Linked DNA regions of Homo sapiens. The protein of the gene in region 1 interacts with the protein of each later gene in a pairwise test. Each region holds a gene or a part of one and is shown on either strand. Other genes may lie near its edges.

Region 1 (15,255 bases):
CAGACATCCTCTCCCAGCAGGCCAGCCCAGCATGACCCACCCCAGTCCTCCTTTGGCCCCACCCAGTACAACTTGCCATCCCGGGCCACCTCTTCCTCCCATAACCCAGGCCACCAGAGCACCTCCCGAACTTCCTCACCTGTGTACCCCGCTGCCTATGGGGCTCCCCTGACCTCTCCTGAGCCCTCCCAGCCTCCATGTGCTGTGTGCATTGGGCACCGGGATGCCCCTCGAGCCTCTTCGCCCCCTCGCTATTTGCAGCACGACCCCTTCCCCTTCTTCCCAGAGCCCCGCGCCCCTGAGAGTGAACCGCCCCACCACGAGCCTCCCTATATACCACCTGCTGTGTGCATTGGACACCGAGATGCCCCCCGGGCGTCCTCGCCCCCCCGCCACACCCAATTTGACCCCTTCCCCTTCCTCCCAGACACATCAGATGCCGAGCATCAGTGTCAGTCCCCCCAACACGAGCCCCTTCAGCTCCCTGCACCTGTGTGTATTGGGTACCGAGATGCACCCCGGGCCTCCTCCCCACCACGCCAGGCCCCAGAGCCTTCCCTCTTATTCCAGGACCTCCCCAGGGCCAGCACAGAGAGCCTTGTCCCTTCCATGGACTCTCTGCACGAGTGCCCCCACATCCCCACCCCTGTGTGCATTGGGCACCGGGATGCACCCTCCTTCTCATCCCCACCACGCCAGGCTCCTGAGCCATCCCTCTTCTTCCAGGATCCCCCTGGAACTAGTATGGAGAGCCTGGCCCCCTCCACTGACTCTCTGCATGGCTCCCCAGTGCTGATCCCCCAAGTGTGCATCGGGCACCGGGATGCACCCCGAGCCTCCTCCCCACCCCGCCACCCACCCAGTGACCTAGCGTTCCTGGCACCCTCACCTTCACCGGGCAGCTCTGGGGGCTCCCGGGGCTCAGCGCCTCCCGGGGAGACCAGGCACAACTTGGAGCGGGAGGAGTACACTGTGCTGGCCGACCTGCCCCCACCCAGGAGGCTGGCCCAGAGACAGCCAGGGCCCCAGGCGCAGTGCAGCAGCGGGGGCCGCACCCACAGCCCTGGCCGTGCAGAGGTGGAGCGCCTCTTCGGGCAAGAGCGCAGGTGAGCCCGGGGGTGGGGTCAGCCAGGTGGGCTGGGGAGGAGGCTCGGCAGCAGGACAGGTGAAGGGTTAGGGTGCCAAAAGAAAGTGTTCAAATCCCCCTGGCTTGCCATTTACCGGCTGTGTGACCTTGGGCAAATCGCTCCATTTCTCTGTTTCTGCATATTGGGAGTTTTCTGTTTTGTGTGTGTGTGTGGTTAAGTGATGTCATGCACAGCCCAGTGGTTAACAGCAAAGACTGCAGTCAGGAGGGCTGAGTCCAAATCCTGGGTCAAAGCCACATGTCAACTCGTATGACCTGATATAGTGAGTTAACCTACCTGAGCCTCAGTTTCCTCATCTGTAAGGGAGGGGAACATGAGCACATTCATTCAAATAAGGGTGAACTGTCTTTTTATTTTTTATTTTTTGTTTTTTTTTTTGAGGTGGAGTTTTGCTCTTGTTGCCCAGGCCGGAGCGCAATGGTGCAATCTCGGCTCACTGCAACCTCCACCTCCTGGGTTCAAGCGATTCTCCTGCCTCAGCCTCCCGAGTAGCTGGGATTACAGGCACGTGCCACCACACCCGGCTAATTTTTTTGTATTTTTACTAGAGACGGGGTTTCGCCATATTGGCCAGGCTGGTCTCGAACTCCTGACCTCAAGTGATCCACCCGCCTCGGCCTCGCAAAGTGCTAGGATTACAGGAGTGAGCCACCGTGCCCGGCCAAAATGAGAGTGAACTCTCAAACCCTTTGATCCAGACTCATGGGTTTTTTTTTTTTTTCTTCCGTGCATGAGGGAGAAGAAGAAAGTACCCATGATTTTTTCCTGCCTTGGCAAAGAAAACTCATGGGTCCCTATGCATTTCAGAAAACAGTTATGTCAATTTAAAATGTATGGCCAGGGCCGGGCACGGTGGCTCATGCCTGTAATCCCAGCACTTGGGGAGGCCGAGGCGGGCGGATCACAAGGTCAGGAGATCGACAGCAGCCTGGCTAACACGGTGAAACCCCATCTCTACTAAAAATACAAAAAATTAGCTGGGCATGGTGGCGGGCGCCTGTAGTCCCAGCAACTCGGGAGGCTGAGGCAGGAGAATTGCTTGAACCTGGGAGGCGGAGCTTGCAGTGAGCCGAGATCGTACCACTGCACTCCAACCTGGGTGACAGAGTGAGACTCCATCTAAAAATAAAAATAAAATAAAAATGTATGGCCAGAGCTACCTATTTTAAGAAAGAAAGCTCACAGAATTATGGATTTTTAGCAGTCAAACATCCTGGGACACCTGAAGTCCAGGTGTCTTTTGAGTCTCCTTGGTCAGCAGCACTGGCCCCCTGGAAGGGGAGCATTTCCTCCTGATCAGGCTGAGGTTTCTCTCCCCAGAAGTTCCAGCCCTCGAGTTTTCAAGAATCAGAGCTAGAATTCCATTAGTTAGGGTCAAGAGAACAACAGCAACAAAAAGCAGTCTGGAAGTCTCAAAACTTTCCATGTATATAATTCAACGAATTTTTAGTTTATTTACCAAGTTGTCCAACCATTGCCACAATCTAACTTTAGAACATTTTCATCACCCTAAAGGGTATGGAATATTTTGTATCTAAAATTCCTCTTTGCTGCTCCTTGGGAAAGTTTTCTCCTGGATTTGAATCTGCATGAGAAACCTTATCAGTCTTGGCTGGGTGCAGTGGCTCCCTCCTGTAATCCCAGCACTGGAGCTTGCAGTGAGCCAAGATCATGCCACTACACTCCAGCCTGGGTGACAGAGTGAGACTCCGTCTCAAAAAAAAAAAAAAAAAAAAAAATTAGCCGGGCATAGTGGCACACGCCTGTAGTCCCAGCTACTCAGGAGGCTGAGGCAGCAGTATTGCCTGAATTTGGGAGGTGGAGTTTGCAGTGAGCTGAGATTGCGTCATTGCACTCCAGCCTGGGCAACAAGAGTGAAACTCCATCTCAAAAAAAGAAAAAAAAGAAACTTTATCTCTTGTTCTTCAAATTTCCTTTTCCAGTAAGCTTGATCATTTAATATCCAGATGACAACCGTGTGGTCTCCAGCATTAGTATAATTCTTTCTTTGGCCTTAAAAACAAAAACCCAGAGCAGTTTTAGGTTTACAGCAAAATTGAGCAGAAAGTGCAGTGTTCCATGCACAGCCTCTCCCACTACCAATATCCTGTACTAGATAGGTATGCTTGTTTCCAGCTCCTGGCCTCAAGGGATCCTCCTTTCTTGGCCTCTCAAAGTGCTGGTGAGCCACTGTACTGGGCAGTAGGGTGATACATTTGTTACAATCCATGAACCTACACTATGAAATCACCCAAAGTTTAGGGTTCACTCTTGGTGATGTACAGCCTATAGGCTTGAATGAATGTATGACAAGTATCCACCATTGTAACATCATGGAGTAGTTTCACCCTGAAAGTCTTCAGTGTCTTTAACTTTTTTTTTTGTTTGGAGATGGAGTCTCGCTCTGTCACCCAGGCTGGAGTGCAGTAGTGCAATCTTGGCTCACTGCAACCTCTGCCTTCTGGGTTCAAGCAGTTCTCCTGCCTCAGCCTCCCGAGGAGCTGGGACTACAGGAGCATGCCGCCACATCCGGCTAATTTTTTTGTATTTTTAGTAGCGACAGGGTTTCACCCTGTTGCCCAGGCTAGTCTTGAACTCCTGAGCTCAGGCAATCTACCCACCTCGGCCTCCCAAAGTGCTGGGATTATAGGCGTGAGCCACCGTGCCTGGTCTGACCTTTTTTTTTTTTGAAACAGGGTCTTGCTTTGTCACCCAGCAGTAGTGCAGTGGCGTGATCATGGCTCACTGCGGCCTCAAACTGCCAGGCTCAAGCGATTCTCTCACCTCAGCCTCCTCAGTAGCTGGGACTACAGGCGTGTACCACTATACCCAGCTAATTTTTCTACTTTTTGTAGAGATGGAGTCTCACTTTGTTGCCCAGGTTGGTCTCAAACTCCTGGCCTCAAGCAATGCTCCCACCTTGGCCTCCCAAAGTGTCTTTGACCTTTTTATGATTACTATTTCTTGTCTAATGTCAATTTTCCTAACTTTGTCTTAACTAATAACTCAGCAGGGACATTAAGGTCTTTAAGCCAAAGTTAATTAATTTTCTTTCCTTTTTTCCAGGATAATTTCAGAGAGATAAGGTGTTTATATTAATAATAGAAATGAGAAATATGTTTACACTTTTATTAACCATTTGTTTTTACACGATCACTCCTATACATTTAATTCTACTCTCTTTGAAATAGCTTATTTACCTTTTAGGGAAGTTTTCATAATTTTACTGAATAATTAAAATTTTTCCTCTTATCTGGCACCTTTTCCAAGTAGAAAACCATTCATCCTCTGAATATGGAAAATTTTAAAACTGTGCAGTGTGTGTGTAAGGGACAGACTGGAGCTTATGAGCGGGTGGCTGTAGGAGTGTGCTTTTATTTTCTCCTATTTCCTCATCGATATGTATTTATTGAGCATCTACTCTGTCCAAGCATTGTCCCGAGTCTGGAAAATTTTTCTTAAAGGGTTGTCACATCAAAGCATTGGGAGTTTTGGCTTGATCTTAATTTTTTTTTCCTTAGATGCCTTTGGCATCTCTTAGAGTCACGTAGCATCCTGTGGTCATTTGAATTCAAAACCTAGCCTTCACTGGATTTGCTAGACTTGATGGCTTTGCTCCTTTAATTCTCTCTGGAGGTCGAAGAACCCATCTAAGCTTCCGAAGGAAACGTTTCCTTTGTCATGCTTGGTGCGGCCACATCAACCCTCGGGAACAGGTGGCCCCGAGGAGACGCTGTTGCTTCAGCATCGGACAAGCCAGGTCTCTGTTGGGGTTTCAGAATCTTCTTGAGTCCCTCACTCTTTTCTCTCAGTTCTACATGGGGGAAAAAAGGAAGGCGAGTTCTCAGGAGGAATGCTCATCAAGCAAGCTGGAGTTCGTATGGAAAATGCATCCATCCGGAAGAGAACACACAAGTGCCTTGCTTCCCTGCACCGGGTGTTTCCACTATTGTCCTCCTGGTCCTCCCCATTAGGGAGGAACAGCCCACTGGGTCACGTCTGGGCTCTTGCTTCATCGAAGCTCCTATACCCCAGTTCGGGGGAAAATTCACTCTAAGGCCTTCAGCTCTCACAGAGTAAGGAAACGCACTCACCTCCAATTAGATTACAAATTGGCTGGGTGCAGTGGCTCATGCTTGTAATGCCAAGACTTTGGGAGGTCAAGGCAGGTGGATTACCTGAGGTCAGGAGTTCAAAATGAGACCAGCCTGGCCAACATGGTGAAACCCCGTCTCTACTAAAAATATAAAAATTAGCTGGGCATGGTGGTGGACACCTGTAATCCCAGCTGCTCAGCAGGCTGAGGCAGGAAAATCACTTAAAACCAGAAGGCGGAGGTTGCAGTGAGCTGAGATTGCACCACTGCACTCCAGCCTGGGTGACAGAGCGAGACTCCATCTCAAAAAAAAAAAAAAAAAAAAAGTTACAAACAGCCTGCCCAGGGAGCCCTCAAGCTCAGAAACACTTCCTCCAGGGAACTTTGGTTCCTCTCCGAACCAGCTGCCAATAACTGCTAACAACTAACATTATTGTGCTTTATGGCTCTGATTCTAATGACATTGGCAAAAGACATGAAACAACAAAAAACTCCAACCCCATACTTTTTTTTTGAGACAGGATCTTGCTCTTTCACCCAGGCTGGAATGCAGTGGCATGATCATGGCTCACTGCAGCCTCAACCTCCCAGGCTGAAGCGATCCTCCCACCTCAGCTTCCCAAGTAGCTGGGACTACAGCCACGTACCACCATGCTCGGCTCATTAAAAAAATTTTTTTTTCCTAGAACAAGGTCTCATTCTGTTGCCAGGGCTGTCTCAAACTCCTCGACTCAAGTGATCCTCTGACCTCAGCCTCCCCAAGTGCTGGAATTACAGGTGTAAAGACACTGTACCTGGCCTCCCAACCCCATATATATATATATATATTTTTTGAGACAGGGTCTCACTATGTCACCCAGGCTGGAGTGCAGTGGCGCGATCTCAGCTCACTGCAACCTCCACCTCCTGGGGTCAAGCGATCCTCCTGCCTCAGCCTCCTGAGTAGCTGGGATTACAGGCACGTGCCACCACGCCTGGCTAAGTTTTGTATTTTTAGTAGAGATTGGGTTTCACTATGTTGACCAGGCTGGTCTCGAACTCCTGACCTCAAGTGATCCACCCACCTCAGCCTCCCAAAGTGCTGTGATTAGAGGCATGAGCCACCACACCTGGGCTAATTTTTGTATTTTTAGAGACTAGGTTTCACTATGTTGTCTAGGCTGGTCTTGAACTCCTGAGCTCAAGCCATCCGCCTGCCTCAGCCTCCCAAAGTTCTGGGATTACAGGCGTGACCCATTGCGCCCTGCCCAATCCCATACTTTTGAAGGTGTCGTTCCAGCATGGCTCCTCAGGCACAGGCCCACCACAGACAGCAGGGCCTATGGAGGCCTGAGCAGAGTTTCCTCATACTTCCCTTTTTGCTGCCTCACTCTGGGTCCACCACAGGGTGGCCTTTTTCAGGCTTCTCTTCCTGGTTCAGTTCATCGACCAAAGACATGGCTCCATTTGCTAACTGAGACCCAACCAAAATAAACATTCATGGAGTGGTTGGGCCTTTTGTTGTGACCCCTTAGGTAGAGGAAGGGAGAGATATGCCCAGGTTCTGTTTGGTGTTTCTACCTGTCAATAGAGATACCACGTTAATCATTAACAGCCATGCCTCCCAGTTAGTAAGCAAGACAACTAACTGGAACTAGACTTTTTACACAAGTTAGAGATGATCTTCATCGGATGCGTCAACAATGCCTGAAGCCCAGTGTCTTAGAAACAACACTTGCCCAGGGTCAGGCGTGGTGGCTCATGCCTGTAATCCCAGCTACTTGGGAGATTAAGGCAGAGAATCACTTGAACCCGGGAGATGGAAGTTGCAGTGAGCCGAGATCGCGCCACTGCACTCCAGCCTGGGTGACAGAGCGAGACTCCATCTCAAAAAAAAAAAAAAAAAAAAGACACTTGCTTGGACAGTTTATGTTGGCCTCTCTGAAGTTGTCAGGGAGAATGTTTCTTTCTTCTGATCTTGCTCAGAGCTCTTTTGCCAACAGCTAGGATGGCCTGGAGTTTTCAAGGCTAAGCGCTGGGATTCTGTTGGTTAACAGTGATGGGAGGGAAAAAGGAAAAGAAATCCAAAATTTACAATATGGACAGGAAAAGGCAGAAAGAATGGAACACGGGGGCACACAGCAGTCTGGCTCTGTCGTCCCACCTCGTGGGCTGCGATCATGATACAAGTGCTTGGCCCCTGGAACATAAGAAGCACTCAATAAATGCTTTGTCATAATGATTATGTGTGCCCAGTGCCTGGTACACAGTAGGTGCTCAATAAATCTTAATTCCCGCAAAGACCAGTCTAACCTTTGTCTGGGGGTGGCTCTTGGGCTGCTGGTGGGGTGGTGGTTAGTCATAGGAAGTACTGGATGAGACAGGAGAGGGCCATGGCCAGGGCCAGATCCCCCTCCCCACCCAACCGCCTCTACTCCCCACTTTTCTCGTCATGTTCGCAAGAGCCTCATGAGGCAGAATAGAGCAGTGTTAACCATCCCCATTTTTCAGAAGGGGAAACTAAGGCCCTGAGAGTCATCCTCACTTAGGGCCCTTCAACGAGCTTGCAGTGGGTCCCTGGCTGTCCCACATCTCCTCCTGTTGGAGGTGGGAGCAGAGGGGCTGGGGTGCTGGGAGTGGGACAGTCCCTCAGAGGAGTGGCTGCATTTGCTCATAGGAAGTCCGAGGCAGCGGGGGCCTTCCAGGCCCAGGACGAGGGACGGTCACAGCAGCCCAGCCAAGGCCAGAGCCAACTTCTCCGAAGACAGTCCAGCCCTGCCCCCAGCAGGCAGGTGAGCACTGCCAGCTGTCTGGGGCCCCGCACCCCAAGGGGCGGCCACTGCCTCTTCCCTCCCGCTAGAAGCCAGGCAGGGGGCTTGGACAGGAAGGTCCTCTATGAAAGGGTCGGAGTCCAATCATGGGGATCCAGCTCTCCCCTCTCCCCAACGGCCAGCAGCTCTTGGCAAAATGCACAAGACCCCACATTAATCCTTTGAAGATAGCCCCTCTCCCACGCTATCCCCTTCCTTTACTAAGCACTGCTGTCTTTTTTTTTTTTTTTTTTTTTTGAGATGGAGTCTTGCACTGTCTCCCAGGCTGGAGTGCAGTGGGACAATATTGGCTCACTGCAACCTCTGCCTCCCAGGTTCAAGTGATTCTTCTACCTCAGCCTCCCAAATAGCTGGGATTACAGGCGTGTGCCACCACACCCAACTAATTTTCGTACTTTTAGTAGAGACAGGGTTTCACCATGTTGGCCAGGCTGGTCACTCCTGACGTCAAGTGATCCGCCCACCTTGGCCTCCCAAGGTGCTGGGATTACAGGCGTGAACCACGGCACCTGGCCAATACTGCTGTCTTGAGCAGATTTCAGGGAAAGCCTTGAAGCAAGAATCTGGCTCTAAGGGCCCTCTCTTTCAGGGTAATTTGTATCTTTAACCAAACCCAGAGGGCTAGGCCCGCCTCAGTGGAATGGGGTATTGGTGGTGGAGGTTCTGGCACCTGATAGCCCAAGTTGGAATCAGTATCTTTGAGAGGGGTGAGAAGCCAAGAACGGGGGCAGGTCTTTGCAGATCTTTTTCTGGAACTGAGGAAAGCGGGTGAAAGGGAGGAGCTGACCCCGGAGGGGTGGGGCAGAGACCCTGTGTACTTTTTGGCCTGCTTTGATTCAGGCTGCTGTGTGGACACAGCCTTGACTCTCTGGGGGCCTAAGAAAGGCAGAGCTGGCAGCCAGGTCCCCAGAGAGAGAGCCTCACCTACCCCCTCACCTCATCCCCAGGTGACCATGCTCCCTGCCAAACAGGCAGAACTGACCCGGCGGAGCCAAGCAGAGCCCCCTCATCCTTGGAGTCCTGAGAAGAGACCTGAGGGAGATCGGCAGCTCCAGGGGTCCCCGCTGCCCCCCAGGACATCAGCCAGGACCCCTGAGAGGGAGCTGCGGACACAGAGACCTCTGGAGAGTGGCCAAGCAGGCCCAAGACAGCCTCTGGGGGTGTGGCAGAGTCAGGAGGAACCGCCAGGGTCCCAGGGCCCTCATAGACACCTAGAAAGGAGCTGGAGCAGCCAGGAGGGAGGCCTGGGCCCTGGGGGCTGGTGGGGATGTGGAGAGCCCAGCCTGGGGGCAGCCAAAGCCCCGGAGGGAGCATGGGGGGGCACTTCCAGGGAGTACAAGGAGAGCTGGGGGCAGCCAGAGGCCTGGGAGGAGAAGCCCACTCATGAGCTCCCCAGAGAACTAGGAAAGAGAAGCCCACTCACGAGCCCCCCTGAGAACTGGGGAGGCCCCGCAGAGTCCTCACAATCCTGGCACTCTGGGACACCCACTGCTGTGGGCTGGGGGGCAGAGGGAGCGTGTCCATACCCGCGTGGCTCTGAGAGGCGACCCGAGCTTGACTGGAGGGATCTGCTTGGCCTTCTCCGGGCACCAGGAGAGGGGGTCTGGGCCCGTGTCCCCAGCCTGGACTGGGAGGGCCTCTTGGAGCTCCTGCAGGCCAGGCTGCCCCGCAAGGACCCAGCTGGACACAGGGATGACCTGGCCAGGGCTTTAGGGCCAGAGCTGGGTCCCCCAGGCACAAACGATGTCCCTGAGCAGGAGTCACACAGCCAGCCAGAAGGCTGGGCCGAGGCCACCCCAGTCAATGGACACAGCCCCGCACTGCAGTCCCAGAGCCCGGTCCAGCTGCCCAGCCCTGCCTGCACCTCCACCCAGTGGCCAAAGATCAAAGTGACAAGAGGACCAGCGACCGCAACTCTGGCAGGCCTGGAGCAGACGGGCCCCCTGGGGAGCAGGAGCACTGCGAAGGGCCCCAGCTTGCCAGAGCTGCAGGTAAGGAGGTTTCCACCCTCCCAAGGGTAGCCAGAAAGTCAGCCCCACTCAGCCAAGTCTCCTTGGAAAAGCCTCCCCTTGGAGTAGCCTAAGCTCCTGCATCCCCCTCCAGGCTCAGACCTCAGCCTCCCTGCTGACCACAACCCATCCCGATCACCAAACTGGCCCAACAATGATGATGAGCAACACAGTTTTAAGCGTTTATGGGCCAAGCCCTGATCTGAATGTTTGACGTGTGCTTTTCCCATTTAGTCTCCTTAGCAACCAGGTGAGAAATACACTATTTACAGATAAGGAAACTGATGCGCAGGGTGAAGCCACTTGCTGGTGGGGCATGGGCAAAACCCAGGTCTGCTCAGTGCAGACCACACTGAGGCCTCAAGCAAGATGCTCTGGCCAGGGCCTATTCCCCTCCTGGCTCCACCATACCTGGTTTATGTTGTGTCTGGTGGCACACACCTGACCCCACCTGGGACTGTAGCCAGTGTGGGCATGCCCCTTCCCCTGGTGGTACTCAGGTACCTGAGTCCAGGACAGCCTCGCTTACCCTCTCTGGCCCCTACAGCTCCTCTCAGACACAGAGAAGAGGGTGCATCAATGCTCACTGGGTTCAGCTAGCTGCCAAGACAGGCTGCTTAAATGAGGGTCGTGTGCAAAGTGGGCCCAGCGCCGGGCACACAGTAGGTGCTCGCCCTTCCCCTGCTTCACTGGTGCTTTGGTGCTGCCTTGAAGCCCAGAACATTCTTCATCTGAAGATGGTGGGCAGGGAGGGTCTTGGAGGCCAGAATCCTGCACCCTGGCAATAGCTCATTGGGAGGACGGCATGTGGTTTTGAACACCAGCCTCTCTCTCTCTCTGTAAGATGGACCAACCACTTCTCTGACGGGCAGCGCTGGGGTGCCGTGGGGGTTCCTGCTTGTTTCTCCAAAGCCTCCTCATCTCCTAGATGCAAAGTCCAACGCCACCTGCCCCAGGATGAGCAGGGCTTCCAGGCATCAGGGTGCACCCCGTGCTGGGCCCAGGGCCTTGCCATATGTGCCTCAAGTGGATAGGAGGCAGCTGCCACTTGACAGATGGGGAAACTGAGGCTCAGACTCCTTAGGCATTTGCTGGGGGTCACACATGCATAGGTCGTGAGAAATGAGATCAAAGCATCCACTCCAAAGTTTGTGCTTTTATTTTTATTTATTTATTTACTTATTGAGACGGAGTTTCGCTCTTGTTGCCCAGACTGGAGTGCAATTGCACAATCTCAGCTCACTGCAACCTCCGCCCCCCAGGTTCAAGCTATTCTCCTGCCTCAGCCTCCCGAGTAGCTGGGATTACAGGCATGTGCCACCATGCCCGGCTAATTTTGTGTTTTTAGTAGAGATGGGGTTTCTCCATGTTGGTCAGGCTGGTCTTGGACTCCTGACTTCAGGTGATGCATCCACCTTGGCCTCCCAAAGTGCCGGGATTACAGGTGCGAGCCACCATGCCCGGCCTAAGTCTGTGCTTTTAGCCACCACGTCACAAAGCTCCTGAGCCCATGGGAGGACTGGAGAACCCTCTCCCCTGTATTTCCCTGTGGCTTTGATGAGTTGACCCTCCAATCAACTCAATGCGTGGACATCAGAGAAGCAGGGATAAGTCAGCTCGTCCTGCCCTCAGATTGCTGTCAGGCTTGTTAGGAAGGCACACAGACAGCTCAAGGAGGACACGGTGCTGTGTCCCGGGGCATGCTGGGTGCCACAGGCCGGCCAGGTCAAGAAGGAAGTTAGAAAGATTCTTCAGTTTCATGGTGAAGCTCAGGGTTCTCAGGAGGCTAGGAGATGGTGGCTGGGAAGGGATGGGAGCACCATGTACTGAAAGGAATTTCACAGATGACAAAACGAGTAACCACCAGGTCCTGCTGGGGCTCCAGCTGCTCCTCTCTATGAAAATCCTTGGCTTGGCACAGCTGGGTGCAGTGGCTCACATCTGTAATCCCAGCACTTTGGGAGGCTGAGGCAGGCAAATCACGAGCTCAGGAGATCGACACCAGCCTGGCTAACACGGTGGAACCCCGTCTCTACTAAAAATACAAAAAATTAGCCGGGCGTGGTGGCGGGTGCCTGTAGTCCCAGCTACTTGGGAGGCTAAGACAGGAGAATGGTGTGAACCCGGGAGGTGGAAGTTGCAGTGAGCCGAGATCACGCCACTGCACTCCAGCCTGGGTGACAGAGCGAGACTCCATCTCAAAAAAAAAAAAAAAAAAAATCCTTGGCATGGCACTCAAGGCCGGCTTCCCTTCCTTCCACTCCGGATTTGCCTCATTGGTGCTGAGCTGGCTGCAGGGCCTGTGAGCACATATCCCTGCCTTTGCACATGCTCTTCCCTGTTCAGCCACCAAACGCCTGTTCATTGTCGAAGTCTTAGGTCAGGCTCCCTGTCCTGAGAAGCCTTCCCTGAACAGTCACTCCTAGTAATGGTCCCCTTCTGGGCTTGGCAGTTTTGCTTCCATTTGTCCATGCAACATCCATCTAATAGGGTTGTCATTTCCCCATAAGCTCCACACAGGCAGGATCTCTACCTGCTTTATCTCTGTAACTCTAGCTCTGGCCCAGGGCCTGACATAAAGGAGGGGACAGCTCAGTGGATGCATGCAAGATGGAGGACACAGGGGTCAGTGGGTGAACAATGAATGAATGGAGGGTGAATGTGTGAATGGATGATGGATCAATGATGCATGTTGAATGAATAATAGACATCTTTTGGATGGATGACAGATGGGTGATGATGGATGGATAGCTGGGTGATGAATATATGGTGGTGGTGGATATATGATGGATGTTGCTTAGGTGATGGATGGATGAACTTTGGGTGGAATATGAATGGATAGATGTGGCATGGGTGGATGAATGTCAGATGATAGATGTTGGAGATATGGGTAGATGGATGATGGATGGAGAGAGGGATATGTAGGTATTGGGTAAATGGATATGTGATGGATCAATGGAGGGTAGATACATGAATGGGTGATAGACAATGGATGATGGGTACATGAGAGGGTGAGTCATGTGATAGACACTGGATGGTTGGATGGATACATGGATCTACTGATGCTGGACGTTAGATGGGTGTTGCATGGACAGATGATAGAATGGATGGATGAGGTGGACAGATGCATGCATCCTGGAGAATAAGTTGGGCTAAGCTGTGTTCTTTTTTTAATCTCCAGTTCCAACCAGAGGAGCCTGAGGAGTCAGAACCAAGCAGAGGCCAAGACCCCCTGACTGACCAGAAGCAGGCAGACTCGGTAGCTGGGTCATGGGTGTGGGTACATACGGTGGGGAAGGGAGGGGGAAGCAGGTTGGAGATGGGCTTCATTCCTCAGAAGAGCCCTAGAATCAACCAGACCAAAGTTGGCATTGCCATGGGGTCATCTATGTGCATGGTGGGGCCTTAAGAAGAGGGGCTCTGCAGGAGCCACCTTCTGGCTTGGGGACCTGGGTAGGTGGGCGATCCTGGGGTCAGAACCCTAGGCCATGCTTCTCATTTGCTGGGACTGAAAAGGTCAATGTCTTTCCCTGCGCAAATGATGGTTTGGCCCCAGTGGTCTCTGTGGGAAGAGATCCTTCCGGTTTGAAAGGGCCAGGCCAGGCTGAAAGAGCAGGGCTTCCACGAGCAGGAGCCAGAGAGCTGAGGATGTACCCAGTCAGCCAGGCCTGGAGGGTCTCCAGGGTCCTGGAGGCGGGAGAGATATGTGCGGGGGTGGGACCCACGGATGCTGCTCTGAGGCCTGGCTGCAGCTGGTGAGCACAACTCTGCCCGCCCCTCCCCGTGACCTACCAAACAGACTGTTCTCGTCACCCTCAGCCTCCAGAGAGGTGAGATCAGAGTTGAGGGCCGTGGGGCAGTGGGAGGTGGGGGAGGAGGAGACAGACTGTTTGGGGCTGTGTTTTCCGGTCCTGCTCTTCCTCCCGTTGCCTCCTGAAGCCAGGGGTGGCAGGGAGCGTCCATTGGGCAGCATAGCGCCCCCCAAGTAGGGCCCTGCCGTGAGTCAAAGCTGGGGGAATTCTGCCCAAACCCTCACTGTGCAGATGAGGAAATGGAGGCAGGGGAGTCGTCCCAGGTTATACAGTCAGTGGCTAGCTGGACTGGGACTAGAACCCAGGGCCCAGGAACCACCCAGCGCTCTCTCTGCACCTCCACCTGGCACCCATGCTGCCCCCGTCCCTGCCCCGATTTCTTGCGTGGCTTCGAACGGCAGTGCTGTAACTTCGAGCAGTCCAGTCTTCCCATCTGTGGAATGGGCGGGGACAGGGGACACTGGTCGCTAAAGGCGCTGCCAGCCCTCCCAGGGACTCTGACAACTTTGCTCTTCCTCTTTCTGGGTTATTTCTTCATATCCTGGAGCCAGAGTAGTGAACGAGGCGGAAACAGCAATGCCGGGGTGCCCCTCTAGTCTCCATGAAACGGGCCCGGCCCATCAACGTGGAAAATATCTCAACCTACCCCCACCCCTAGGCAGCCTTGACTGGTCAGAACTGATAACCACCTCATTCATGCATTCTTTCACACACACTTAGTGAGCACCTTCTGTATACCCAGGTGTGGGTCACAGGTGAGTCGGAGCGCCATCAAAGAGTTCAGTCTAGTGAGATGGTTGCATGCCTGTGGTCAGGACTGTGATGGGGAATGTGGTAGCAGGGTCGGGGGCACCCCTACCCCCAAAGCCCTCCTGGACCTGTGCTTTGATGCTTCAAGTTCCACTTCCAAAGAGTCTGCAGATTCCAGAGCGAGGACCCTGGGCTCTCTCCTACCTTCCCAGTAACCCATGTGTGGCTTTGGACAAGTGCCTCTGCTTCACAGGGGCCTTGGTTTCCCCAACGAGGATGACTCCAAAGAGGGAGCATTTGGGGGCTCTGCTAGGAATGTGTGTAGAAGTCCACAACTCATTCCCTTTGCTTAAGCTGGGGTCACAAACCTAACGCCCTGAAGGCCAGGCAGGTAACAATGGTGAGAAGGTGGGGGGGCACCGAGGGCACTTGTGTGACTCCTCGGTTCCAGATAGCTGTTGCCATGGGGAAGACGGGCCCAGAGTTTCCACATCTTTCGATATTTCAAGAAACACTGGAGATATGTATTTATATGTGAAATCTCTAACCTAATGTGAAATACTCTGAAAACACTATGTGGGCAGAAACATACCTGTGGTCTGCACCCCCTCCAGCTGGCGCCCGTGGTTT
Region 2 (15,460 bases), on another chromosome or scaffold:
TATTTCTAACACTTAGACAGTAACTGAGCCCCGGGGCGTCTGTGGGCGTAACATCCCCCGCTGGGCTGATGTGAGGCCCTTCTTCTTCTTCCCTCCTCTGCAGGTGTGAGCCTGGCATTGTGGGCCTGATCCTTCCCCTGCCCAACTCACTCCTGCTCCCGGTCCCTGTTATCTTTCTCAGGCATTGCCCGCAGTATTCCTCTTATGCTTCCAACTCCTGGGACTCTGCTTCCTGAAGGACCCAACCAACACAGTCGCAGGATGACTCCTCTGTGAGGTCTTCCTTACGTCCCCTTCTCCATGATCTCTGGGTGGCTGTCACCCTGTCCCCAAGGCCCCGGGGACAGCTCTTTCTCTGGGCCCTCCTGGTCGTGGTTTTTGGGCAGCTTGCTCTGTAAGTGTGGGTTCTCACTTAAATGAACCTGTGTGCTCTGAACCTGTGTGCTCTGGAAGACACAGGTCAGTTCCTCTCTGTGGGGATCCTCTGCTGGGTTGAGCTCCTGCACTGAGTGGGATTGCTTCATACATTGGCTTGTTTTGTTGCAAATGTGTGCAGCCGCCTGGGGACTGGAAGCTGTGCTCTGGAGGCAATGGAGAGGGTCCACTGAGAAGGGAATTGGCTGAGGCTAGATGGGTCTGTGTGGGCAGAAAGAAGTCAGTCTAGGTGAAGGGGAGGAGTGCAAGAAGGAGCACTCTGTGGCCACAGGGAGGATGGGTTACAGTTCAGTACAGCCAGCACTGAAGGCTGAGGGTCACAGGGAGGATGGGGTCCAGTTCAGTACAGTCAGCGCTGAAAGCTGAGGGTCAGAGTAGGCCTGGATTGGGTTTGAATTGGGGCAGAGGATGCCATGGCAGGGTCTTAAGAAAAGGAGGAAAAAAAAAAGTTAAACAGACAGAAAAAGTCAGAGATGAATGCTCTCTGGACAGGGGATTCCCTGCTTCCCCTTTCTTGGGCCGTGGCCAGTGTTGTCCGGAGTGTCCTGCCTTCCATCAGGGTGCTCTGATGAGAACAGTTGATTCCCCCGCCTGTCGGAGGAGGCCTGCCGTCCCCAGGGCTCTGCCTGGTGCTGGCCTGCTCTATGCCTGCAGCCCTGCCAAGAATGATGCCCATGCATCTTAGTGGCTGACTGCTCATATTGGTAACCATGTTTTAAAGAGGACTTTCCGAAAAAACAGTTTTCAAGGTTGGAGATTTGGTGTTCGGCTGAAAGAATTTCCATCTTCAATCATGAGATCTGAAGCTGAATGGGCTTTGGAGATGATCTGGTTGGGAACTGAGCCCCCTTGTCCCTGACAGTGGCTGTGTTTCCGCCTCGGGGAGGGCTGGCCCAGACCCCAGGGGTAAGGTGACAGCCTTCTGTGGGTGAGTAGGGATCCCTCCCTGGGGAGGGCTGTGCCCTGTGCCCCCTGCCCCCTCCATAATGCCAAAGAGGCGGCAAATCTTGCCCCTGCCTTCCCTCTCAGACCAGAGTGCTCTGCAGGGCTGGGCGGGGGACGCCTTGACCTTGGAGGGCTGTGCTGGGAAGGGAAGGCCTTGGGCCTGGGGTGTGTGCATGGGGGCCTGGGTGGTGAGGGCAGGGGTGACTGAGCGGAAGTCCCTGACTCTTTATAGCCCAGCCCGGGGCTGTTCAGTGTGAGCTGGAAGTACCCCACCCTTGCACTATGAGCAGCTTCCTTCCTGCCTGCTGGCAAGGACGGGTGGGGAGCGGGGAAAGGAGGGAAGGGAGGCGGGAGCAGCGGGAGAGGGGCGGGGAGCAGCTGCCGCCAGGCCTCCCCCTCCCGAGGATGTAACTCATGCTGAGTGCTGGGGGGCGGAGAGATTTGCTCAGCTTCCAGATTGCAGAATTGGTGCTGAGCCTTTGGTGAGGGCGTTGGGGCGGCTTCTGGGATGCTGAGGGTTCCGGGCTGTGGACGCGGTTGCCGGTCTGAAGGGGCTCCTGTGTTGATCCTGGGCGCCCCCTGGTAGCCCCAGCCCTTCTTGAGACAGCCACATGAGGGCAGCAGAGAGCCGAGGAGGAGCGATTTCAGCACAATCGTGGGATCAGACACCACGAAGGGAGGGGGAGACCCAGGGGATAGGAAAGGAGCCAACGGCATCGGGTGGTAGGTCTACACCAGCCATCTGGGGTCCCAAGGTGGCTCATTTGGGCCCACCCCCAGAGGAGCAGATTGGGACAAATCTGCGCCTCCCTGCTTCCTGCACAGACCACATGGGGTGTGTCAAACCGAAGGCTCAGGAGGTATCTTCACATACACACGTACACGCACACACATACATCCATGCATGCATGCACACTTTCTTACACATATATCCATGCATGCATGCACACACATACACATATATACATGCATGCATGCACAGTCACACACACATACATCCATGCATACTCTCTTACACACACAAATGTTTCGGGGAACGTTTGATTTCCCCACAAATTCATAAGTTGAGATCCTAGCCCCCAAGGTGATGGTGTTAGGAGGCGGGGTGTTTGGGAGGTGTTGAGATCGTGAGGGAGGAACCTTCCTGAATAGGATGCGTGCCCTTAAGAAAAAAACCCCAGAGAGATCCCTCACCTTTCCATCATGTGAGGACACAGTGAGAAGGCGCTGTCTATGAACATGGGTCCTCACCAGACCTTTCCATCATGTGAGGACACAGTGAGAAGGCACTGTCTATGAACCGTGGGTCCTCACCAGACATGGAATCTGCCAGCACCTTGATCTTAGACTGCGGCATCCAGAACTGTGAGAAATAAATTTATGTTGTCTTTAGGCCACCCGGTCCTTGGTGTTTTCTTACAGCAGCCTGAACAAACGGACACACACACATACATCCATGCATACGTGCACTCTCTCTCTCTCTCTCACACACACACACACACACACACACACACTCAGGGCAGTGGTGTTGAAGGAAGAATCTAAACCTGAAGGTTGATCAAGGCCTGGAGATTCTTGCATTTCCCTTGGGAAGGTGGAAGTTGGTCCAGACTCCCAAGAGCCCCCAGAGGCTGGCAGACCCCTGCCACTGCCAGGGTAAGGTCTTGGGTTTCCAGGTCACTGGGTCTGTCAGCCAGGAGGCAGAAGCGTCTCTGGAAGAGGTTCACCAGGCTCTGCCCCAGGGAGCCCACCTGAGGGCGGGGCAGCATCTCCCTGTGCCCCCTCCCTGCTCCCCAGCTGGGGAGCTCCCCCCCTCACAGTTTTGCAGTTGTCCATGGGTTGTGCATCCTGGGCTCCCTCACTGACCAGCCTCCTCATCTGGGCCCTGCCCCTCCAAAGCTAATTTGGGCCAAGAGCATCTGTGTGGATATGAAGGCTTTCCCATCCGTGGGAACTTGAAATTTCCTCCTTTTTTTTTTTTTTTTTTTTGAGATGGAGTCTCGCTCTGTTGCCCAGGCTGGAGTGCAGTGGCGTGATCTCAGCTCGCTGCAAGCTCCGCCTCCCGGGTTCACGTCATTCTCCTGCCTCAGCCTCCCGAGTAGCTGGGACTACAGGCTCCCGCCATCAAGCCCAGCTAATTTTTTTGTATTTGTAGTAGAGATGGGGTTTCACCGTGTTAGCCAGGATGGTCTCGATTTCCTGACCTCATGATCCGCCCGCCTCGGCCTCCCAAAGTGCTGGGATTACAGGCGTAAGCCACAGCGCCTGGCCGAAATTGTCCTTTATTCCGGGGATCCAGAGTGAGAACGAGGGGGTTTCAGGGGCAGGCTGAGGCCTCCTGAATGCTCACCATAGGTGCCCTGTCTTGGGCTCTGAAGGCCCTACATACAAAGTCATCCTATCTGCTGAGGCAAAGATATAAGGTTACCTCGGACTTGAGACGGATGGTTGTCAGGGATCCATCTGACAGGCCCTGCCCCCTTCCTGCCTCCTCCTGTCTCCCTCTCCTGCCACCCTCAGCCTGGCCCAGTTTCCTGGCATGGTTGCTGTGGCGCCTCTTGGGAATCGGAGCTTTGGGCCTCAAGTGTGCCCAGCATGGAAATTCCACAGCAACTGTCACTGGGATCGTCTGGACAGAACCCTCTCAGGTGCCCCCAGGAGGGGCTGGGCCCTCTCTCCAGACCAGGGTGGGAGGAGCAGCCTTTAGAGCCCCCTGCTGATCTGTGAGATGTGGAAATCCTGACTTCAAGCCCTGGAGAACCTTCAGTCATTGGTGACTTGTCTTTTTTCCTGCTCTCCCCAAATGGATTACATGCCCGACTCCCAGTGACCTCCCAGAGGCGTCCCTGACATATTTGCTGTTGATGATGACCTGAGGCTTCCGAGGGGCTCCCAGGAAATGGGGTTCCCAGTCTGTCGTCTGGTTTCCTAAGCACCAGCCCCGTCTGCGCTGGGCACTGCTGAGCCGGGCACTGCTGAGCCGGGCACTGCTGAGCCGGGCACTGCTGAGCCCACTTCCTAGAGGAGATGTTGTTCTGCTGCGCGGATCCAGAAGGGGGAGCTCTCAGGGCCTGTTCTTCTTCAGCCGGGAAAGATCGAATGCGCTCTTCCTGGACATTTAGCGCCCCAGCATTGCAATAGGCCTCTGCCGTCACCTTCACACCCTCACTGGCTCTGTCTGGCCCTGCACTGGACTGCTGGTCCCCCAGAGGGACAGAGATGAGGTCCTGACCACAATTCTCAGCTCAGCCAAATTCTCCCTAAGCCTTCCTCCCTTGCGAAGCCTTCCTCCCTTGTGAAGCCTTCCCTTATCCTTCTGGCCTTAAAACGATTCCTTCAGACCCTGAAGTCAAAGCATTCATGGTCTGTCCGGGCGCCGTGGCTCACACCTGTAATCCCAGCACCTTGGGAGGCCCAGGTGGGAGGATCGCGTGAGCCCAGGAGTTTGAGACCAGCTTGGGCAACATGGGGAGATCCTGTCTCTATTTTACAAAAATGAATAACATTTTTAGAAAAAGAAAAAGCATTCATGGTCTGCACCACTTCTTAGACTTGGGATCTAGGACTGTGTAACTTCTCTTGTCAGCTGCCATTATTTGTATTTGGCTCCTGTAATATTGTCTAATCATGGGTGAAAATATTGTCTTCTCAACGAATTGCAAATTTTGTAAGGCCAGGGACTGTATTGTATATCATATATTTCCTTAGGAACACTTCTCAGTGGGGGGCACATAGAAAGCTCTGGATAATTGTTTGTGGGTATATCAGGGAGAAGATGGAGTGGGAGACCTGTTTGTTTATTGTTTTTGTTTTTGTTTTTTGAGACAAGGTCTCACTCTGTTACCCAGGCTGGAGTGCAGTGGTGCTATCACGGCTCACTGCACCTGGGCATGGTGGCTCATGCCGGTAATCCCAGTACTTTAGGAGGCTGAGGAGGGTGGATCACTTGAGCCCAGGAGGTCAAAACCAGACTGGGCAACATAGTGAGACCCTGTCTCTGAAAAAAAATGCAAAAATTAGCTAGGCATGATGGCGCACACCTGTAGTCCCAGCTGCTTGGGAGGCTGAAGTGGGAGGATCACTTGAGCCCGGGAGGTCAAGGCTGCAGTGGGCCATGATTGTGTCACTGCACCCCAGCCTGGGAGACAGGGTGAGACCCCATCTCAGAAAAAGAAAAGTTAACAGGTAGCTGCAGCCTTGACTTACCTGGCTCAAGCGATCCTCTTGCTTCATCTTGCTAAATAGCTGGGACTACAGGTGTGTGCCATCACACCCAACTAATTTTTTCTTTTTGTAGAGATGAGGTCTCGCTATGTTGCCTAGGCTGGTCTTGAACACCTGGGCTCAAGCCATCCTCCCGCCTCAGCCTCCCAAAGTGCTGGGATTACAGGTGTAAGCCACCGTTCCTGACCATGCAAGACCTATTTGAACCTGAGTTCTCTTCTCAGGTCCTTGGTGTTGGCTGACTCAGCAGCTGATGATCCTTGGGATGGGCTAGGATATGAAGCTAGTGTTGGGTTAGCATTTTTATTCCAAGCTGGGGTAGGCTCTTAATTCTGCCCGATATCAGCAGAATGAACAGCAAAAGTTCTGGAGAGCTGACAGAGCAACCTCTGTATCTGGAGTTCTCTGGTCTCTCTCTCTCTCTCACACACATATCTCAAATTTCTTTAGCTCTTGTTATATGTGGTATGTAATCTCCCACCTGGCCTGGTGTGGTGGAAAAATCACTTAACTAAGAACCAGGAGACACTATTTTATGTCCAGCTCCATTTCTAACTTGTGGCACAACCTTGAGGCGGAGTCCTTGTCACTGTGAATATCTGTTTTATTGTCTAATATATGAAAGTGTTTGCTTCTGGCTCTAATATTTCATAAAGCAACAGAAACTCCCAAAGGAAATCCCAAGAGTTGCAAGTGTAAAGTTCAGGGGTTTATTCATATCTTTTCCTGATGGCTGTCAGAGGAGTGAGGGAGGAAGGCACACTCTGAAAGCACATGAGACATGGTTTTCTCAGCATTGACTGGCAAACCCAGCTCTTGCTTCACCCCGTGCTGCCTCCAGGAGCTACTGTCCAGCTCCAGAGGCATTTTCAGGATTTGGGGTGACCATCTAATGCACTGTGTCCTGAAGAGTGCCTCAGTCTTGTCACCTGGGCTGCCCTCCCTGGTTTTCTGCTGAGCCTGCCGTAAAGTATTTTCAGCACCTTGGACAGAGACAAAGCTCCAACCTGGCTGGAGGCATTGAGTAGCCAAGTGAGCTTGGGATCTCCTCCAGGGCCAGCTTTCCTGGCAAGGTTGCCCAAAGCATGTCTTGGTTCTTCATATTTTTTAATCCTTTGAAGGCACTCAAAAATAAACCCCCTAATATATGTCAAAACAGTGCACTAGTTCTGCAAACTCTCAGGGCATTTTTTAAAACAAAACCAACCTATTTTCTAGAATAGTGTTAGGTACACATTAGGTGCTTAGTAAATACATTTAAAAAGGAATACATGCAAATTCAACCTTCAGACAAATGTCCCAGCCTCCTTATAATAGGATTCTTTCTCCCCATCAGTCCCTCCTATATAGTAATTCTGGAGCTTCTAGTACTTGCTAAGTTTTGCAGCCTCACTTGAAGCCCCTTCTTGTGTCTAAAAATCCCAGTCTTTAAATCAAAGGAACAGATGACTATTAAGTTTTCAGGCAGAGGAAACTGAAACTGGCCCCTTCTCTTTCTCATCTGGGGGTAAGTATAGATTGGTGGGGAAACCCACACCTGACTCCTCTTGGGATCTTGCTTTATGAAGATGTTCACCACCTTCCTTTGTACCTGAGAAAGCCCTTACCATGCAGAAGGACCAAAATCGCCCAGGAAATTTTCCGAGCTGACCCAGCCCACTCAGAGCCCTCCTTCTTCTGAACACCCCTCCACGTATCCTCAACATCACCAGATTGTTCTTCTGACATTTCATATCCAAGTTTTTTCATGCCTATTGGTTCTTTTCCCGGTTAGATAATGAATTCCCTGTGTTTGTGGTTTCCAGTTAGATGCTACTGTGATGCAAACACAGCAGATAAAATGGGAGATTGATCAGTCTTGGGGGCTTCTATCTTGTCCTAAGGGGTCTCCTGCACCACTTATTTTTAGTCTGACATAAATATGCAGGATGGATCATGGTGCTATTTGTGGAGTAACCATTGGCTCCAAGTGCACCCAGGATGAGAGAGCAGAGGCAAGAGGTGGAGGTGAAGATGGCTATTGAGGAGAAACAGAGGAACCACTCATGGGTGGGTGTGTTGCTGTGTGGAATTAAGGAATCACTCACTGCTAGAGCTGGACGGGATCTCAGAGATCAGCTTGTTTGGTCTCCTCATTTTACAGGTAAGGAAAGTGAGATTTAGTGGTACTCCTAAAGTTACACAACAAATGGGCCCTTTTCCATCACCTCTGACCTGGTTCAAGTGTTGGGCATCTCTCCCTTGGACTATTGTATTGCTCTATGTGGCAGATGATATTTTCCCAAGGTGGTCGTGCCAATACATATGCTTTTCTTCCAGTGTGACAGCAACACCCCTCCACTGAGAGGTGGGGGTCTGTGTTTGTTCTCCTTGCATCTGATGGGTCACGATTACAGCAGAAGTTGTTTTATGTGATTTTTTAAGGCTAAGTTATTCAAGGAGATACAGCTGCTGACTGGTCTTCTCTTGGGACACTGGCCCTTGGAACACAGCCACCATGCTGTGAGGGAGCCAAGTGGCCACACAGAAGGGCGTTGTGTAGCTGTCTGGCCCCAGTCCTAGCTGAGGTCCCAGCCAACAGCCAGCACCAACCACCAAACGTAAGTAGATGAACCTTCCAGTCTCTAGTTTGGAGTAAAGCAGAGAAAAGTGGTCCTGGTGGAAACTACCCCAGTTGCAAATCCATGAGCAAAATATATCCAACTAAACCACTGGATCTTGGGATGGCTGTTATGCAGCAATAGGTAATGGAAAAACCTCATATCCACCTCATTTTCTCCAAACTATTATACACGTTTCATTCAATCAACAAACCTTTCTTGGATACCTACTCTTTGCCAGGGTCTGTACAAAGACAGAATATTTACATTCATGGATTCTGCATTCAGCTGCCACTACTGTTTCCTTACTGTTTCCTGCCACTACTGTGTCCCCCTTGCAGAGATAATAAAATTCATAGTCCTCATCCCTCTGCAAATGGTGCCAGCCTGCTGCTCCACTGCCACCACATCAAATTATTTTGTCCTCAGACCCAATCTCCATTCTCCTTTCTTTATATATCCTTATGTTGTCTCTTCTATCTGCAATGCTTCTGCCCTGCCCCACCTCCAACGTTCAAGGACCTGCACTGAAATCTCCTTCCCTGGCAAGGCCCTCCAAGACTCCTCCGGTTGAAATTAACCAACACCTCCTCGTAATCCCACAGCACTGACTGCAGACTGCAGTTTCTGTCTGCCCACCGTCTCCCTCAAAACTCACTAGACTGTGAATCCCTGGAGGAGGGATCCTGGCTTATCCCTCTTGTCCCCCAGCAGTGTCTGGCACAGGGCCCAGTACTTAGAAAGCCCCCAGTAAACACTTGTCGATGCAACTAGTAGCAGAACCAGAATTAGAAGTCAGATCTCCCGAATCCTAGTCTCCAGGGCCTTACTTGCTTCTTTTGACACCACAAAGGCAGGGAAAATGTCCCACCAAAGGTGGGGATCAGGTTGTCCAGAGAAGACCTTGGAATGGACCAGGGGTTGGCAGGATTGCTACATGTGGAGCTGCAGAGGGCGATGAGTGAAGAGTGTCCTGGCTCTTGGCTAGGGGTTTCAGGCGGGTTCCTTCCATCCTTTCTTCCTTCTTTCTTTCCTTCCTACTTCCCTTCTTTCTATCAATAAGCCCTGATCATCCACTTCTGGAGGGGAAACATGCTGTTTCTTTGATTCTTTTCTTCTCCAACTCCAGTTCACATCTGAAAAAAATCTCTATTCTGGGGACCCAGTTGCACAGAAAAACAAAAAAAACCCACCGTGTTCAAGCATCAAGGGACCTGCTCACTCTGTTCTTCCTTCCCCAGGGTTTCCCAGGAACCATTGCTCTGTAACCTGTCTCTCCTGTGCCCAGCCGACTGGAACTGCTTCCCAATCCCCTGTGGGTAACCCCAGGCTCTCCTGGGCCTGACTTTGGTGGTGTCTTGCCTGGCCCGCTCCTTGGGGGACCTCTGGCAGAGTGGGCTTCCATTTCTCTTTCTCCTTCCAGGATGTCCTGGCTCCATGCCTTCGGACTGAGCAGGAGCAGAGAGCAGGGTGGGTAGGATGCTTTCTGCAGACTTTTCTCCCTAAATTGTTTCTTTTTGGGAGCTGGGAGGAGCCTGGATATCTCACTGTAGCCTCTCTGTTCCCTCAGTCACAGGCAGGGTGCGGGAGAGCTCTTCCCAGGAATGGTCTCTGAAATGGCTCTTGGAGCTGAGATGGGGGTGGGGCAGATTCTAGAGGCTTAACAGCCCAGCTCTTGGTATTAGGGTTGGGCACTTTTCTCTTTGTCCCAGATCTGGGGGTAGCAGAGGTGGGAAGTTGAAGGCAGTGGGGGCTTCTCCATCAGCTCATCTGAGGCCCAGAAATGTTGCTTTGGGGAGAGCTTGCCCCCTCTCACCGTTTCTCTTCCTCAGCTCAATTCTTGAGTGTGGGGGCGGCTAAGTGGGTCTGCCTTCAGGCTCTACCCTGAGCCTCCAAGGAAGTCAGAAATCTACATTCAGCTTTGACTTCTGAGTATGTGGAGTGGGCTGGGGGGAGAGAGGGAGAGATCTGTCTCTCCTCAGCTTGAGGGAACAGCTCTCTTCTTGCCTCTGTGCACAGAAGGAGGGCTACCCCGTGCCTGGGCTCCTCTCTGTTTGGGAGGATGAAGGGCTCCTCTGACTCCTGTCTTCCCTTTGGGATAAGAGCAGAGGCCTGTCCCAGCAACACGGGTACAGGAGTGGAGGACAGCTGGCCAGCTCAGATGAGTGGCTCCTTCCCTTCAGGGCCTGGCTCTCCCTCTCCCTTGGTCTGGAGAGAGGGGGAGGCTACAGATGTCCCTTTCCCTTCTTGCCCTCCCATGCCCATTCTCAGCTGCTGGCCTTTGCTCACTTTCTCTCCATCCCCTGGCCTGGACAGGAGGACACTTCACTCACACATGAATCATCCTGGATTCATGGTAGGCAACCCAGCAGCCAGGGGTGGCCTTGGGGCGTGGCGGGGGCTGGGCCAGTCGTGGACTAGGTTCTACCCGGAACCCAGATGTGTTGATGCACCTGATGCCAAATGCTACACCAAGGAGGAGCTTGTGCTGTGGAAGGCCCTGGGCCCCCGGGGGGGTGAGTGAGGAAACTGCTGGCAGTGGAGAGGGCCTGAGGAATAACTGCACAGGCAAGAGCCTCTGGACTTTTTTAGCATCAGCTGTGGAGCCACCTCCTTCTCTCCCACTGGCTGCCTCCCTGAGTCACTGCCCACCCACCAGCAAATAAAAAAGAGTGTCATCTGCTGGCCAGTGGCCCCATTTGGCCCCAGTGTTTGCATCTTTGTGCTCCTGGGTGGAAGGTGAGAGTCCGGGTAGGGTGGTCTCACGACGACAGTTTTCTGCGCCTTCCTCCTTCGGGACTCCGATTCCTTCCCTGCCCTTTGTTCTTCCCCTCCCCCCATGATGGTTCTCGCTGGTGACAAGACCCAGCCCCTGCTCCAAGGACAGAGGCAGCTGCAAGCCCTCAGGAGCCCCCACATGGCCCCATCCATCTAGACAGGTCTCTGATCCGGCTGCAGGGAGGGGACCCTCGGCTGTTCAGCTGCGACTCCTCCCTCCCCGCCCGCCCACTCAGCTGTCAACACTCGCCTCCCCGCCCTGGCCTTCCCGGGGCCCTGCCTGACTGCTAAGTCCGAGGACACCGCGCCCGGAGACCCTCACTCAGACGCAAGCAGGCGATGAGCAGGCGGCGGGGCAGACACCCCGCCTGCCCTTGAGCATCCCTAGGCCTCCTTGCCTAAATAAGGGAGCCGCAGCTGGAGCGAGCCAGCTGGCCGGGGGGAGGGGCCTGCGGCTAGGCCAGGGCTTTCCGAGGGGCTGGGCCGTGGCCGCCGCCGCAGGGCCCCGAGCCCGCCGATTGGGCGTGCAAGGCTGGCCCCGGGCTGCCGGGGGAGGGCGGGCCGCTCGCACCCGGGGATCCCCTGGTTGGAACCTCGCGCTCAGGGACCTCTCTTTGATCCTGCAGCTAGGAGGCCGCAACTGCTGTCAGAATGTCCCTCTCTGTGCAGCTCCTATGCAGAGCCCCACAGAGGGCTCTCTCTCTCTCCGTGTGTGTGTGTGTATGTGTGTGTGTGTGTGTGTGTGTGTGTGTGTGTGTATGTGTGTGTGTGTGTGTGTGTGTGTGTGTGTGTGTGTGTTGGGGCAGGGGGCGTGCCCCTTCTAAGTTTAACCCTCCCTTATTTCAGAGCTCTGCTGCTCTGGGGCCTTCAGATTGTCTTGCTTTTCCTATTTCCAGGGTCTCCCTTGACTCCGGGCTCGTCTTCGAGGGTCCAGGCGTTGCCCCGGTCACCCACAGTAGGCACTGAGCGCGTGCTGTGTATACCAAGCCAGTGCTCGGCGTGGTGGGGAACCAGGGCATAAGGACCCGCCGTTTCCCTTCAAATCAGGTTTCTTAGTCGCTAATCTGGGGTGGGGGTGGAATCCCTTCCCCCATCCCGGCCGCCTACAAGCCGGCCATGGCACCTGTCCTCACGGTTTCCCCTGCCTAAGGGTCCCTTCCCCCTCTTCTGGGCGCGCGAGTCCCAGGGGCTCCTTGGCAGAGCGAGGGGCTGGCGTTGGGGGAGCACTCGGCGCGGCTCAGCCAATGGGAAGGTCGGGCGCGCGCGGTGGGGCGGGATGGGGGGGGGAGAGGGCGGTGCTGCGGGCGCGCGGCAGGCGGGAGGGGGCCGGGAGGCGGGGGCCGGAGCCGGAGGGGCGCGCGCCGCATTAACCCTTCCGCGGCCGGGCCGAGCCGCAGGCGCTGCCCGAGCCGCGGGCGCTGGAGCGGCTGTCGGCGCGGTGGCAGGCGGGAGCCAGGAGTCCGGGGCTCGGGCGGGCGGAGCGCAGCGCGGGGACGCGGCGGAGCGGGCCCCGCGGCTCGGCGGGGGCCGGCAGACAGGTGTGCCGGCGGCGGGCGGCTCGCGCTCAGGCGGCTCCAGGCCGGGCCCGGGGTCCGGAGCGGGGAGCCGGGAGCCGAGCGAGGACCCGGCGCCCGCAGTCCAGTCTTGGCCGCGCCCGTGCTCGGCTTGGCCGCGGGGTGCGGGGACCACGGCCCGGCCGGGCCACCCGAAGCCTAGTGCTGGGCCGGGCCGGGCCGGGGTGGGTGGGGGCCCGCCCGGCCCGCCCATGGGCTCAGGATGCCGGTGCGGAGGGGCCACGTCGCGCCGCAGAACACCTTCCTGGACACCATCATCCGCAAGTTTGAGGGCCAGAGTGAGTGGGGGAGGGGGCTGAGCGGGGAGGGGGCTCTGGGGGCGGGCCGAGCTCTTCCGAGTGTGGATGGGGGGGCGTGCCCGGGCCGTGTGCGTCGGCAAGTGCGAGTCAATGGGGCCTGGTGGGCCCCAGGCTTTGGCGAGGGGACGGCGGGGGCAAGGCTTGGTGCACCGGGGCCGTGGGCACCGGGCCAAAGGGTTTGGGGTTGGGGCTTGGGGCGGGAAACTCAGCTCAGGCTTTTGGGATCGGAGTGTGTGTGACACGCTGAGTGTGCAGGGAAGGGATGTGGGATGGAGTGTGCAGGTGTCCCCAACTCTGGGTGCGTGGACGTGGATGGGGCTGTGTGCAAGGGCATAAGAGTGTGTACGACCCAAACCCTGGGATCCCGAGAGTCCAGCGCGCACACTGGTCTTGCCAGATCTTGACTGTGTTGTGCCGGAGGGACTGAAAAGCCGTGGATGCAGGGTCAGCTCATAATCTCTTCTTGTGTGTGCCGTGTGTATATAACCCTGAGCCCATGTGTCACCCGTGAGTTAGACCCTGTATGGGCGGTGGGGAGGTGTCTTTGACAAGGCTGCGAGCTTGTGGGCTCTGTGGAGACAGGGTGTCCTGGGGCTAGAGCTGGGCTTTGAGGGTAAGCAGCTCCCTGTGGTACCCCCAAGTTGTGGGTTTTCTTGCCCTGGAGACTGTCACCTAATTCCCTTATGGGGACCGGGAGTACAGCACCCCTAATGCCTGCCTGGTAGGGAGGCTTCTAGAAGGGTCCCAGATTAGGCAAATGTCCTGGGGGTGGGCAGCATTCATGTGCCTGTCCCTAAGGCTGCATGAGCCACAGTGGGTGTGACTGCCAAGGGCCCTGGGAGTTGGGAGAGGATGACATTCCTTGTCCATGACCCTGTGAGCACAGGACAACGCGTGCTTGTAACGGTGGTTGGGGGAAGGAGGGGTCAGTCCGATGGTCAGTATTGTGTGAAGCGGAGGAACAAGATGATCCTGAGGGGGTGGAGACAATGACACTGGTTGAGGGCCTCCCTGAGAGGTGGGGGTGGGCCCAGGGGGAGGCTGTGGGCGGGCCTACGAGGAGGCTGGGATGGATGTGGGGGGGGGTGCTGGATTCTAGCCCTACCTTTGCCACTGACTGCCATGTGACCTTGAGTGACTCTTCCCTCTTTGGGTCTCAGGTTCCAGGTCTGTGGAGGAGGGGCAGGCTTTCTGTCCCATCCCTGTATTCCAGGATCTCAGTGAAGGGTGTGTGGTGGGGTGGGGCATGCCTTCGAAGAAACTTGCTCTTCTTTCCCCAGCCTGGGAGAGAGGACAAGGGGTGGTTTTTCTTCTATGAAGCTGGGGTGTGTGGCTGGGCCTCTGGACTGCCTTGGACTGTGGCAGAGCTGGAGGCCGAGTTAGGGGGTCTTTTCAGGTGACAGGAAACCCTGACTCCTGGAATTGATGGCTGCCTGGGAGGTCTGGGGGGCCTTGGGAACTGGCCAAAAGATGAACCAGTTCCAAAAGGCAACTTTCTGGGGGCCAGGGGAAGGGAGAATCGAGAAAGGTGGGAGGAGGCCAAGTCCTGATGGCCTGGGCCTATCTCAGGGTGCCCTGCTGCAGCCCAGCTTTGCACGTAGGATTGCCTAGGGCTGCAACCTGAGGGCTATGCTTGCTGGGGAGGGGAGGGGAAGGGAGGGGGAGAATTCCAACTGCTACTGAAAGCCCCAGCATTACAGGCCAAAGTGGCCGGAAACTTCTGTTTATAAAAAGCTCTTATCCCAGGAGCATCTTGCCTGGCACAAGTGAGGCTGCTGCCTGCCTGCTGCTCACTCGCCAGCCTGGCTCTCCGGGCAGGCCTGGAGTCAGGGAGCCAAGTCTGGCAGAAATGGAACCATGGGGGTGCTCATCCAGGATGAGGCCAAACTGAGGAAGGCCTCACATCCCTGGGCAGGTCCCCTTTCTTGGGTCTGTTTTCCTACAAGTGGGGCCAAAGTCTCAGGCCCCGCCCAGGCTCCAGGTGTGTCCAGGGTTTGGAGCTGCAGGTCCCTCTCTTTGCTTCCTATGACCTTGGGCTTCTGCCTGTGACCCTCAGCTTATTCTTCTGCCTCTGCCAGACCAAGGTTCAAAAGCTGGCTCTATCATTTACAAGCTGCAAGACTTGGGCATGGTGCCGAACTTCTCTGGAGCCTTGGTTTCTTCATCTATAAAAGGAGGATAATAACACCTACCTTATGGGGTTGTCAGAGGACCTAATGAGATGCAGCGTCCTTAGGTGTTCAACGTGTAACTTCCCTCATCCTCTCTGGCACACCCACCCCTCAGCTCCTGACTGCCCTTGGGGCGGGGGTGGTGTGCAGAAGTTCTAGGGGGTACTGACCTGGTAGGATCCTCAGATAATCGGGGAGTGATTTCCTAGGGAGCCTCAGGATAAGGAGTGGCTCAGGGAGCGCCCCCCAGTCTGGAGAGCAGGGAAATTAAAAGCAGAATCCAGAGAGCCGATGCAAAGGGAATCCTGGCCGCCATCTCTGGCCTTTCCCAGGCTCCCTTTCTAGGCCCAGTGTTTATCCCTCCGCCGCGGCTGCTGACACGCGTTGCTGACACCCGCCAGGCTGGCCTCAGCCTCGGGCATGGAGGAGGCGGC

What was found.
Region 2: the proteins of TRIOBP (region 1) and KCNH2 interact in a two-hybrid assay, tested with the Homo sapiens proteins (one study listed by BioGRID).

Annotation. Positions count from the first base shown.
Region 1 is NC_000022.11:37,725,398-37,740,652, forward strand, and holds part of TRIOBP (TRIO and F-actin-binding protein), read left to right. Parts: coding exon 1-1,106; intron 1,107-7,900; coding exon 7,901-8,015; intron 8,016-9,001; coding exon 9,002-10,045; intron 10,046-13,210; exon of another isoform or gene 13,211-13,244; coding exon 13,245-13,322; exon of another isoform or gene 13,323-14,147; coding exon of another isoform or gene 14,148-14,308; intron 14,309-15,217; coding exon of another isoform or gene 15,218-15,255. Other genes in the region: uncharacterized protein LOC124905115, read right to left, coding at 14,148-14,308, 15,218-15,255.
Region 2 is NC_000007.14:150,975,212-150,990,671, reverse strand, and holds the start of KCNH2 (voltage-gated inwardly rectifying potassium channel KCNH2), read left to right. Parts: upstream 1-12,350; 5' UTR 12,351-12,758; coding exon 12,759-12,834; intron 12,835-13,316; exon of another isoform or gene 13,317-13,827; intron 13,828-13,913; exon of another isoform or gene 13,914-13,928; coding exon of another isoform or gene 13,929-14,082; exon of another isoform or gene 14,083-14,136; intron 14,137-15,196; exon of another isoform or gene 15,197-15,354; intron 15,355-15,460.